3 linked regions of the Homo sapiens genome follow. The protein of the gene in region 3 interacts with the protein of the main gene of each other region in a pairwise test. Each region holds a gene or a part of one and is shown on either strand. Other genes may lie near its edges.

Evidence for each region.
Region 1: the proteins of SMUG1 (region 3) and KRTAP15-1 interact in binary tests that used the Homo sapiens proteins (3 or more experiments, as listed by UniProt).
Region 2: the proteins of SMUG1 (region 3) and SKIL interact in binary tests that used the Homo sapiens proteins (3 or more experiments, as listed by UniProt).

The regions. Positions count from the first base shown.
Region 1 is NC_000021.9:30,438,165-30,441,503, forward strand, and holds KRTAP15-1 (keratin-associated protein 15-1), read left to right. Parts: upstream 1-2,110; 5' UTR 2,111-2,163; coding exon 2,164-2,577; 3' UTR 2,578-2,705; downstream 2,706-3,339. UniProt on the Homo sapiens protein: In the hair cortex, hair keratin intermediate filaments are embedded in an interfilamentous matrix, consisting of hair keratin-associated proteins (KRTAP), which are essential for the formation of a rigid and resistant hair shaft through their extensive disulfide bond cross-linking with abundant cysteine residues of hair keratins.
Region 2 is NC_000003.12:170,381,688-170,385,439, forward strand, and holds part of SKIL (ski-like protein), read left to right. Parts: intron 1-2,845; coding exon 2,846-3,078; intron 3,079-3,752. UniProt on the Homo sapiens protein: May have regulatory role in cell division or differentiation in response to extracellular signals.
Region 3 is NC_000012.12:54,182,292-54,186,043, reverse strand, and holds part of SMUG1 (single-strand selective monofunctional uracil DNA glycosylase), read left to right. Parts: intron 1-2,084; 5' UTR 2,085-2,103; coding exon 2,104-2,388; intron 2,389-3,420; coding exon 3,421-3,752.

The sequences.
Region 1 (3,339 bases), on a different chromosome or scaffold from region 3:
TGCAAAAAAATCCATACTTTGAGAAAAGAATGTGCGACATTACTTAATATCTGATCCCTCAGAGTATTCTTCTACTGAAATTGCTTATATAGGAATGGATGACATTAAAACAAGAAAGCAACTTCAATTTAGGCGGGCTAAATATTTGTGTGGCTATTTTGATATTCAATATTTTATTGACAAACACAACAGGAAGATTTGGAATCTACTAGAATGCTTTTTGGCTATTAATAATTGAGAAGCCTAATAAATAAGAATTGTTTATTCCAGAAACACAGAACAAACTATGTTACTTAATAAATGAAACATGATTGGAGATCAATTTGTCTCCTCAAAAGTTTAGACTTATAAAGTCTACAATTTGGAAGGAAGTTGAGCAATTATCTCCAGCCTCCTGTCAGATTGGAATTCCACTTACAACATCCTAATTAGATTTTCCCAGGGCCCTCAGTATGGAAATATCATTAATTGCAAGAGCAACTCATTTTAGATTTTTAGCTGAATCTTCCCCTAAAACTTTTACCTAGTAATCCTGATTCTTCATAGAAGGGAGTCTCAGTTCACTTCCATTGTAGAATACATCAGTTCTGAAGATGGATGTCTTAAGAGGTTTGCCCATTCCCACAGGTTAAGGCATTTCCTGCATCCGTGCCATATATCTATTTACAGTTTGCTCTGATGAACTTTCTGAGCGAATCCAGAAAAATCCTCATTACTCTAGTACTCTAGGCAGAATATATATGTCAGCTGATACATCAGAGGTCACAAAGGCATTCACTCTCAATTACACATTATCATCATGTATCCTTCCCACCCCTTTATTTCAATTTATAAAGTCATTTGTTACTATGAATTCTTTACATATTTTATCTTTCTGTGAATACTACATGGGATAGACATTTCCCTCATTTCTTGCTTTTCTTTTCCCTCTCTGGTAAAAATGTCACCCTCTGAGAGAAAAGAAAGGAAAAGATTAACGATTTACATTTTACTTATAGTGCTTATTATTTTCCTCTCAGTAACATCAACATGACCAAAAATTACTTATACCTTATGGGGATAAACGGTTTTTTATAATCAAACTTATTGATGACTTCTATGAAGAAGCAAATCAACCTTTGAGTAAGGGATTTCTTTAGTAGTTTTACAATGTAAACTTCAAAGCACTTGTTCAAAAATTTCACCCTTCATTCTTAACTCTTCATGTGCACAAGAGTGACTTAGCTACTTGTGTTATAAGAAATCTAAACTTAAATATGTTAGGCACTCATTTAGCATGTCTACCAAATAAGGATTGTTATTGGGTTATTTCTTCTAATGGTTCAAAGAATTGAAAGAAGGAATAGATATTGAAATTTTTTTTCTGTTCTCAATTGAATTTATAAAATTGGAGCAAGATCAAAGTCCCTTCCAGATTACAAGGTATTTTTCAGATCTTTACAAATACCAGAACTCTCAGTGTCTTAGCCGTTTGATCCAATTTCTAGAAGGACAGGATGAATGAAGCATCAAGTTTTTTTCTTTGTTTTTTTGTTTCTTTGTTTGTTTGTTTGTTTTGGAGATGGAATCTTGCTCTGTCTCCCAGGCTGGAGTGCAGTGGTACGATCTCGGCTCACTGCAAACTCCGCCTCCCGGGTTCAAGCAATTCTCCTGCCTCAGCCTCCTGAGTAGCTGGGATTACAGCCGCCCACCACCATGCCCGGCTAATTTTTGTATTTTTAGTAGAGACGGAGTTTCACCATGTTGGTCAGGCTGGTCTGGAACTCCTGACCTCGTGATATGCCTGCCTCAGCCTCCCAAAGTGCTGGAATTACAAGTGTGAGCCTCCGCGCCCGACCCTTTGAAGCATCAGTCTTATAGGTACAATTATGGTGGTTTTCATTCTACCTAAGCAAGATGAATGAGAAATGGCATTTTTGTTTCATGAACAATTGCTTTGAAAAACTAATGAAATTCTTTCATGTAGAAGTCTACGTTCATAAATAAAATTCTTTGAGTGTTAATATATTTCATTTTGACTGCAGCCTAATTAAGTGTTCTCATTAGAATGGGCACTTGTGACTACACCTATTGCTAGAGTATGTCAGTGTCCAGTATAGAAGGTAACATTCACACACACACGCTCCTCACTGCAAATCACCTGAGCTCAGAACTCCTGTTAACATGTCTTACAACTGCAGCTCTGGAAACTTCTCCTCCTGCTGTTTTGGAAGTTACCTGAGGTATCCAGTTTCCACTTATAATTTGTTCTACCCCAGCAATGCCATCTATTCTCCAAATACCTGCCAACTGGGCTCCTCTCTCTACAATGGCTGTCAGGAGACCTACTGTGAGCCCACCAGCTGCCAGACATCCTGCACTTTGGCCAGATCCTATCAGACATCCTGTTACTGCCCAAAGAATTCCATCTTCTGCAGTCCCCGCCAGACTAACTACATAAGATCCCTTGGATGTGGAAACACTGGCCTTGGATCTCTTGGTTGTGGAAGCACTGGCTTCCAATCTCTGGACTGTGGGTCCAGCTTCTACCACCCAACTACCTTTTCATCCAGGAATTTCCAGGCAACTTGTTACTAACCAGCCTTTGGGTCTCGCCTTTTTGGATCATCTTACTGAATATTCTCCATTCTCTCATGATTATTTCTGTACTCTATGGAACTGCAACACTCAGCCTGTCCAATATCTGTGATTGTTGACCATCTACATCAGTAGGACTCAGCATCCTAGCCCTCTTGGAAGTATATGATTGAACACGGACAAATTAATCTTGACCTAGGACCCTTCCTAAATCTGACAGGAGATATATCTTGAATTTCAATTTTTGTGCCAATGCTCAGGATCATTTCTGTTATCATCTTTCTAAAATCCTTCTCTCATTATTTTCCCAGAACTCTTCCACTCAAATATATTTCAAATAGTTACAATATTTTAAATAAGCTTATTTCTTTGGCATGAATTCTGGCATTCCATTTTATTTTGTTAATACAATACACTTAGGCTGGGCATGATGGCTCACACCTGTAATCCCAGCACTTTGGGAGACTGAGGCTGGCGGATCACTTTAGGTCAAGAGTTTGAGGCCATCCTGGCCAACACAGTGAAAACCCATTTCTACTAAAAATACAAAAATTAGCAAGGCCTGGTGTGCACCTATAATCCCAGCTACTCAGGAGGCTGAGGCAGGCGAATCACTTGAATCTGAGAGACGGAGGTTGTAGTCAGCTGAGATCATGCCACTACACTCCAGCCTGGGCAACAAAGTGGGACTCTGTGTCAAAAAATAAATAAATAAATAAGTAAAAATGATACATTTAGTGAATTCATCCCATATCTTCAACT
Region 2 (3,752 bases), on a different chromosome or scaffold from region 3:
CTCCCAAAGTGCTGGGATTACAGGTGTGAGCCACTGTGCCTGACCACGAATTTATTTCTTTATTTTCAGGCTTTCTTGTTAATCATAGATTATCTTTGAAAATTCAAAATTAGGCTGGGCGCGGTGGCTCATGCCTGTAATCCCAGCACTTTGGGAGGCCGAGGTGGGTGGATCATGAGGTCAGGAGATCGAGACCATCCTGGCTAACACAGTGAAACCCTGTCTCTACTAAAAATGCAAAAAAATTAGCCGGGCCTGGTGGCGGGCACCTGTAGTCCCAGCTACTCGGGAGGCTGAGGCAGGAGAATTGCTTGAACCTGGGAGGCAGAGCTTGCAGTGAGCCGAGATCGCGTCATTGCACTCCAGCCTAGGCGACAGAGCAAAACTGTCTCAAAAAAAAAGAAAAAAAGAAAATTCAAAATTATTTTTAAATAAGTACATTGGTATTTAATGTATTTTTTGTTTCTATTTATCATTATAGGGAAATGGTAGGTGAATTGTATTGTTACTCTTATTAGAAAAAATTTCAAAGAAAGAATCTGAAATGAAATGAATTGTAAATTGCACTGAATATTTGAAATAACCTTTACTATGTGTTTCTATGTGTTTTCTAGAAATAGGTCATTTTCTTTTTGCCCTCAAGTAAAAAATGGAAGTTCTCCTTTAATTTCTTACTTTTCTTCAAGAGGTAAACAAACTCTTCAAGAATTTGGTGTGCAACTTTGATTTTTTTTTTTTTTTTTTTGAGACAAAGTCTCACTGTGTTACCCAGACTGGAGTGCAGTGGCAGGATCTTGGCTCACTGCAACCTCTGCCTCCCAGGTTCAAGCAGTTCTCTTGTCATGGCATCCTGTAGCTGAGCCTGAGCGCCAGCTGTCACTCCTGGCTAATTTTTTTGTATTTTTAGTAGAGATGGGGTTTCACCATGTTGGCCAGGCTGGTTTTGAACCTCAGGTGATCTGCCAGCCTTGGCCTCCCAAAGTGCTGCTAGGATTACAGGTGTGAGCCACCGCCCCGAGCCGCAACTTCAATTTTTTTTTTTTTTTTTTGAGATGGAGTCTCGCTCTGTTGCCCAGGCTGGAGTGCAATGGTATGATCTCGGCTCACTGCAACCTCCGCCTCCCGGGTTCAAGCATTTCTCCTGCCTCAGCCTCCTGAGTAGCTGGGATTACAGGCATCCGCTGCTACGCCCAGCTAATTTTTGTATTTTTAGAAGAGACGAGGTTTCACCATGTTGGCCAGGCTGGTCTCGAACTCCTGACCTCAAGTGACCCACCTGCCATCAGCCTCCCAAAGTGCTGGGATTACAGGTATGAGTCACTGCACCCGGCCTGCAACTTTGATATTTTAAAAAGAAATTCTTTTGAAACTAAGAGCTTTCTTAATAACCGTACTTCTCAAAATCAGAGTTTTACTGTTTCAATAAATGTTCACCCTAGATTGTAAGTTTTTTGTTGTTGAGCCCTAGATTTTTTTCTACTAGTGTAAATCTGTATTCCCTCCAAGTATGGTGATAAGGGGACTGAGTCTTATTTACATTTGTACAATCACTACTTTACCTGTTGTATTTGCAGTAAGTCTTTTGAGCCCTATTAAACCTGTCAATTTTCTTGTCCTGTCAGAAAACTGAGATTTTGGCTCAAAAATGGATGTTATTAACAAAGGGGAACAATATAGATGTCTTAGTACAAAGAAAATGAAATGTAAGAGGAGATTGTCTGGAGTTCAGGGGATAGAGTGTCAAGTCTTAAATGGTTACATCTTTTTGCTAAGTGTTACTCAGAATATAGTTACAAATATGGTACTTAAATATCTAGCTGAAATTTGTTTGTCCCATGAGCTTCTCACATGAGTCTACTGGGCAATTTTATGTGAGTTTTGGTCAAAATTGGTAATCTCTTTTATCTTAGTTTTGCATAATTTATTGTTGCCATTTTATCAAATGAGTAGGAAGTAGTGAAGTATTTCAAGAAGATTGCTCAGTGGGGTTTGATACAAGAACTGCCCAGTAGCTGGGCGACATTCAGAGCTCTCTCTCTGAGGTATATAAGAAGAGCCCTGGGAGCTCCTCACTGAGCCTCCTGTGAGTCAGGACATAGCCTTGCAGTCTGCCACTGAAGCAGCCTCACCAAAGCAAAGATTCCCTGCTTTGGAAGGGTGGTGGGCAAGATAAAGTCCTCCAAAGTAGTTATAGATTATTCTTTTTCTGGAGTAAAACTTACCTGCTCAGAGTTGTTACACAGCTGTATAAAGTCCTTAATGCTTTTAATTCTCAGGTGGTTTTGAGGGAAGGAGAAGAGCCTGTGATTTTCCTTCTGTGTATCTTTTTAGTGCTTAGAAATTACTTGCCAAAAAAAAAAAAAAACACGAAATTACTTGCAAGCTGGTTATGGTTGCTTATGCCTGTAATCCTAGTGCTTTGGGAGTTGGAGGTGGGAGGGTATCACTTGAGCCCAGGAGTTCAAGACCAACTTGGCAGCATAGCAAGACCCTATCTCTAAAAAAAAATGGGTATGTGTGGTCCCAGCTACCTGGGATGCTGAGGCAGGAAGATTGCTTGAACCCAGGAGTTAGAGGTTACAGTGAGCCATGATCATACCACTACGCTCCAGCCTGGGTTACTTGCAAACTAACAAAAAATCCCTTATAATTTTGTTTGTAATGCCTAAAGTGTTGATTTTTTTCCTAAGAATTCTTTACTGTGACCTTTATTTTCTGAGTTGTAATATTGTCTGTTTTGGTTAGAAAAAAAAAAGTTTAACCACAGAAATGCATGTTACATATTTGATTTTTACTTAATTGTAATATGTAATATATGTCTTGTTTTGCTTTTACTTGTTTTCAGCTACTACTTATACATGTGTGATAAAGTGGTTGCCCCAAATGTGTCACTTACTTCTGCTGTATCCCAGTCTAAAGAGCTCACAAAGACAGAGGCAAGTAAGTCCATATCAAGACAGTCAGAGAAGGCTCACAGTAGTGGTAAACTTCAAAAAACAGTGTCTTATCCAGATGTCTCACTTGAGGAACAGGAGAAAATGGATTTAAAAACAAGTAGAGAATTATGTAGCCGTTTAGGTAAGTATTCAGAGATTATCTTTCTAAAATTAAATATCTAATGAACACATTTATTGAGCATTTTCAAACAGGCTTTTTGTTTGAGCTAAATTTTCAGATAATTGGAGCTTTTACCTTTAAAAATGCTACCCTTCAAAACTCTGGGTGATTTATTTTAATCTCAGTTGCTATACTTTTCTAGCGTGGTGATAGCTCAGGAGACTGAGATAGATACAGGCTACCTGGCCTCAGACTGCAAGTTATTTTTGTCCGAATTTTTTTCCTTTCCTACCTTTTATTTGCTGTCAGTCTTCAGGAGATCCTTGTTTTTCTTTCCTCCTTTTTTTTTCTTTTTTTGTGACAGAGTCTTTATCGCCTAGGCTGAAGTGCAGTGGTGAGATTGCGGTCACTGCAGCCTCAACCTTTGGGCTCAAGTGATCCTCCCACCTCACCCTCCCTAGTAGCTGGGACCAGAGGCGCACACCACTGTGCCTGGCTAATTAAAAAAAAAAATTTTTTTTTTTTTTTTTGTAGAGATGGTCTTGGTATGTTGCTCAAGCTGGTCTCGAACTCCTGGGCTCAAGTGATCCTCCTGCCTTGGCCTCTCAAAGTGTTGGGATTACAGTTGTGAGCCACCGCACCCAACCTTTATTTTTCTTTCTGATTTGCCATGAACTGAGACACCATTTAATAAT
Region 3 (3,752 bases):
TTTTGAAAATGTGAGTAGAATGGTCAGGTTGGAACACTGGGTTTGAATGGGAGTGGAGTGAAGCAATGGCCTTTGCAGTTTACAAAGCTTGCTGTCATGTTCCTGCCCCCTCCCTTCTCCTTCCTCCCACCTCCCTTCTCTCTTCCCTTTCTTCTTCCTCTCCCATTTCTTTTCTCCCTTCACCTAAACATAACATCTCATTCCATCCTTACGTCTGTTTGTTTGTTTTGAGACAGTCTCCCTCTGTAGCCCAGGCTGGAGTGCAGTGGCACAATCTCGGCTCACTGCAACCTCTGCCTCCCAGGTCCTGGTTCAAGCAATTCTCCTGCCTCAGCCTCCCATGTAGCTGGAATTACAGGCACGTGCCACCATGCCCAGCTAATTTTTGTATTTTTAGTTGAGACGGGGTTTCACCATGTTGGCCAGGTTGATCTTGAACTCCTGACCTCGTGATCCACCTGCCTCAGCCTCCCAAAGTACTGGGATTACAGGCATGAGCTGTTGCGCCCGGCAAATTTATTTATTTATTTATTTATTTATTTATTTATTTATTTATTTTTTATTTTATTTTTTTTTGAGATGGAGTCTTGCTCTTTTGCCCAGGCTTGAGTGCAGTGGCACGATCTTGGCTCACTGCAACCTCAGCCTCCCGGGTTCAGGCAGTTCTCCCTGCCTCAGCCTCCCGAGTAGCTGGGATTACAGGTGCCCACCACAACGCCCAGCTAATTTTTTTTTTTTGAGAGAGAGTTTCACTGTTGTTGCCCGTGCTGGAGTGCAATGGCACGATCTTGGCTCACCGCAACCTCCACCTTTCAGGTTCAAATGATTCTGCCTCAGCCTCCAGAGTAGCCGGGATTACAGGCACGTACCACCATGCCTGACTAATTTGTATTTTTAGTAGAGGTGGGAGTTTCTCCATTTTGGTCAGGCTGGTCTCGAACTCCCGACCTCAGGTGATCTGCCCACCTCAGCCTCCTAAAGTGCTGGGATTACAGGCTTGAGCCACCACGCCCAGCATGCCCAGCTAATTTTTGTAATTTTTAGTAGAGACGGGGTTTCGCCATGTTGGCCAGGCCAGTTTTGAACGCCTGACCTAAGGTGATTCAGCCGCCTTGGCCTCCCAAAGTGCTGGGATTACAGGCATGAGCCACCATGCCTGGCCTTCCTTATGTCAACATTATTAAGTGGATATTATTATTCTTTGTATTTGAAGGTGGAAACCTGAGGCTCTGGCCATGGTTGTGTAGCTCGTAAGATTCTATGAGGAGTCTGTAATCATCCTACTCGGTATTCCTGAGTGTGGGAAAGAAGCTAGGCTGGGGTTAGGGGGTTGTAGAATTAGCAGGGTGGCTGATCAAACCATCTAAGGCAAGATGGCGTGGGTGGTTAAAGCATAGCCTTGAGCCAGAGAGATTGGGCTCAACCAAATCCAGCTTTATTACTTACTAACTGTAAGACCTTGGGCAAGTTGCTTAATCTTGCTAAGCCTCAGTGTCCTCACTTATAACAGGGGAGCAGTAATACCCACCTCATGGGATTGTTGTGAGGATCAATGAGGTGTACCTGGTGCAGAGCAGTCGCTCACCACCTGGAAGCTATTGTAATTAGCCTTCCCAGGTCTCTGGGCTGTGGCTGTGCACTTGCATTTCATTCTTCAGCGCCGTGCTTTCCAGAACAGTCCATTCTGGCTGGGCTTTTCTTTTTTAGGATGACCTTAAAGGTGCTGAAAGGATGCCACCAGTAAATGTTTATTGAAAACCTACTATGTGCTCGGCATAGCCCAGGAACTAGTGACCTATGCCTGATGGAAAGGAGATTTGGAGTGGGAGATGTTTGGTGGCTATGGCTTATCCTCACCAGGTGCCATGTGAAGAGGACAGATAATGGAAGTGGGGAGGGAAAGGGCCCTTCATTACCAAGAACTGAGATGAGTTCAGTCCTACTTGGTGGTTGGTAGATGACTGACATGGTCTCTTAGGGTCCCTTCTGAGCCCAGGAAATGGTAGTGGGGGCCCTGGCAAGCATGGATCCCTCCTACTCTGTGGCTGAGGGTTGATGGGGCTTCTGTCCATCTCTTTTCCCAGGTGACAGCGGCATGGACATATGCCCCAGGCTTTCCTGCTGGGGTCCATCCATGAGCCTGCAGGTGCCCTCATGGAGCCCCAGCCCTGCCCTGGAAGCTTGGCTGAGAGCTTCCTGGAGGAGGAGCTTCGGCTCAATGCTGAGCTGAGCCAGCTGCAGTTTTCGGAGCCTGTGGGCATCATCTACAATCCCGTGGAGTATGCATGGGAGCCACATCGCAACTACGTGACTCGCTACTGCCAGGGCCCCAAGGAAGTACTCTTCCTGGGCATGAACCCTGGACCTTTTGGCATGGCCCAGACTGGGGTAAAGGGTTTGGCTTCCCCAGTGGGTGGAGTGGGGGGTTCTAGGTGGATGCTTGGCTGGGTGTGCTGTGGAGAAGGAGCATGTGCATGGCTGTAGACATGTGTAGGTCCTCCCGCCCCATTCTGTCTCAACACATATACTGGCTCCTGTGGTCCGAGGCCCTCTCCCAGCGTCTCTGCCCGTAATTAACCAAGCACATTAATGGTAGTTTCGTTTTCCCTGTGAGCTGGCCAGTAATTGCCTCTGAGAGCCCTTCCTTCCGCCAGCCCCATCCTTACTTTACTGGATCTCCCCTGTCCCTGAAGTGTGGTTGGGGTCAGAAGAGGGACTAGGACTGCTGGGTCCTCAGAAGAGACTGGTTGACAGGGGTGGGTATGTAAGAGATGCAGGGCGTTCTGGGAACCTGGGTTCTGTTTCCTAGCTAAGGCGAGGTTCAAAACAGAGCCTGGCTCCAGTGCCTGCCCGCTTTTCTTTCAGGGCTCAGGATGAGTGACTGCCCCCAGTGGGGGTGCTTGGCAGGTGGGGGAGGGGAAGAGGCTTCAGGGCAGAAGGCTCAATCGCTTTTATTGACCCCAACTGGGTGATGAAAGGTGATCAATGATGATCGATGGAAATGACAGCCTGAGGCTTGGGGCTGAGAGGGCATCCAGACAGCAGTGGTCAGCCCATCCTTGTGCCTCCTTTAACCCTGGCTGCCTTTCTGTCTCAGACCATCTGTCTGTCCCCAGTACTAACCATCAAACCCTGTGTAGGGCTAGATATCTCAATGTAGTCCCTGTACTTAGTCCCAAAGGCTAGTTGGGCTAGAGGGAAACAAATTCTTCTGGACCACGGTTCACAATGAAGAACTGGAAAAAGACAGACAGGCTCAAACCATAGGGCCAAGAATCCTTGTCTCAGGCCTTTGGGTGAAGGTAGGGGTAGGGGGTGCAGGCTGGATCCTCATGTAAGGTATAAAGAAGTCAGTTGGTCCAGAGCCCGGGCCTCAGGTCTCCAGTTTGAAGCCTTTCATGTCTCTCTCCTTCCTCACAGGTGCCCTTTGGGGAAGTAAGCATGGTCCGGGACTGGTTGGGCATTGTGGGGCCTGTGCTGACCCCTCCCCAAGAGCATCCTAAACGACCAGTGCTGGGACTGGAGTGCCCACAGTCAGAAGTGAGTGGTGCCCGATTCTGGGGCTTTTTCCGGAACCTCTGTGGACAGCCTGAGGTCTTCTTCCATCACTGTTTTGTCCACAATCTATGCCCTCTGCTTTTCCTGGCTCCCAGCGGGCGCAACCTTACTCCTGCTGAGCTGCCTGCCAAGCAGCGAGAACAGCTTCTTGGGATCTGTGATGCAGCCCTCTGCCGGCAGGTGCAGCTGCTGGG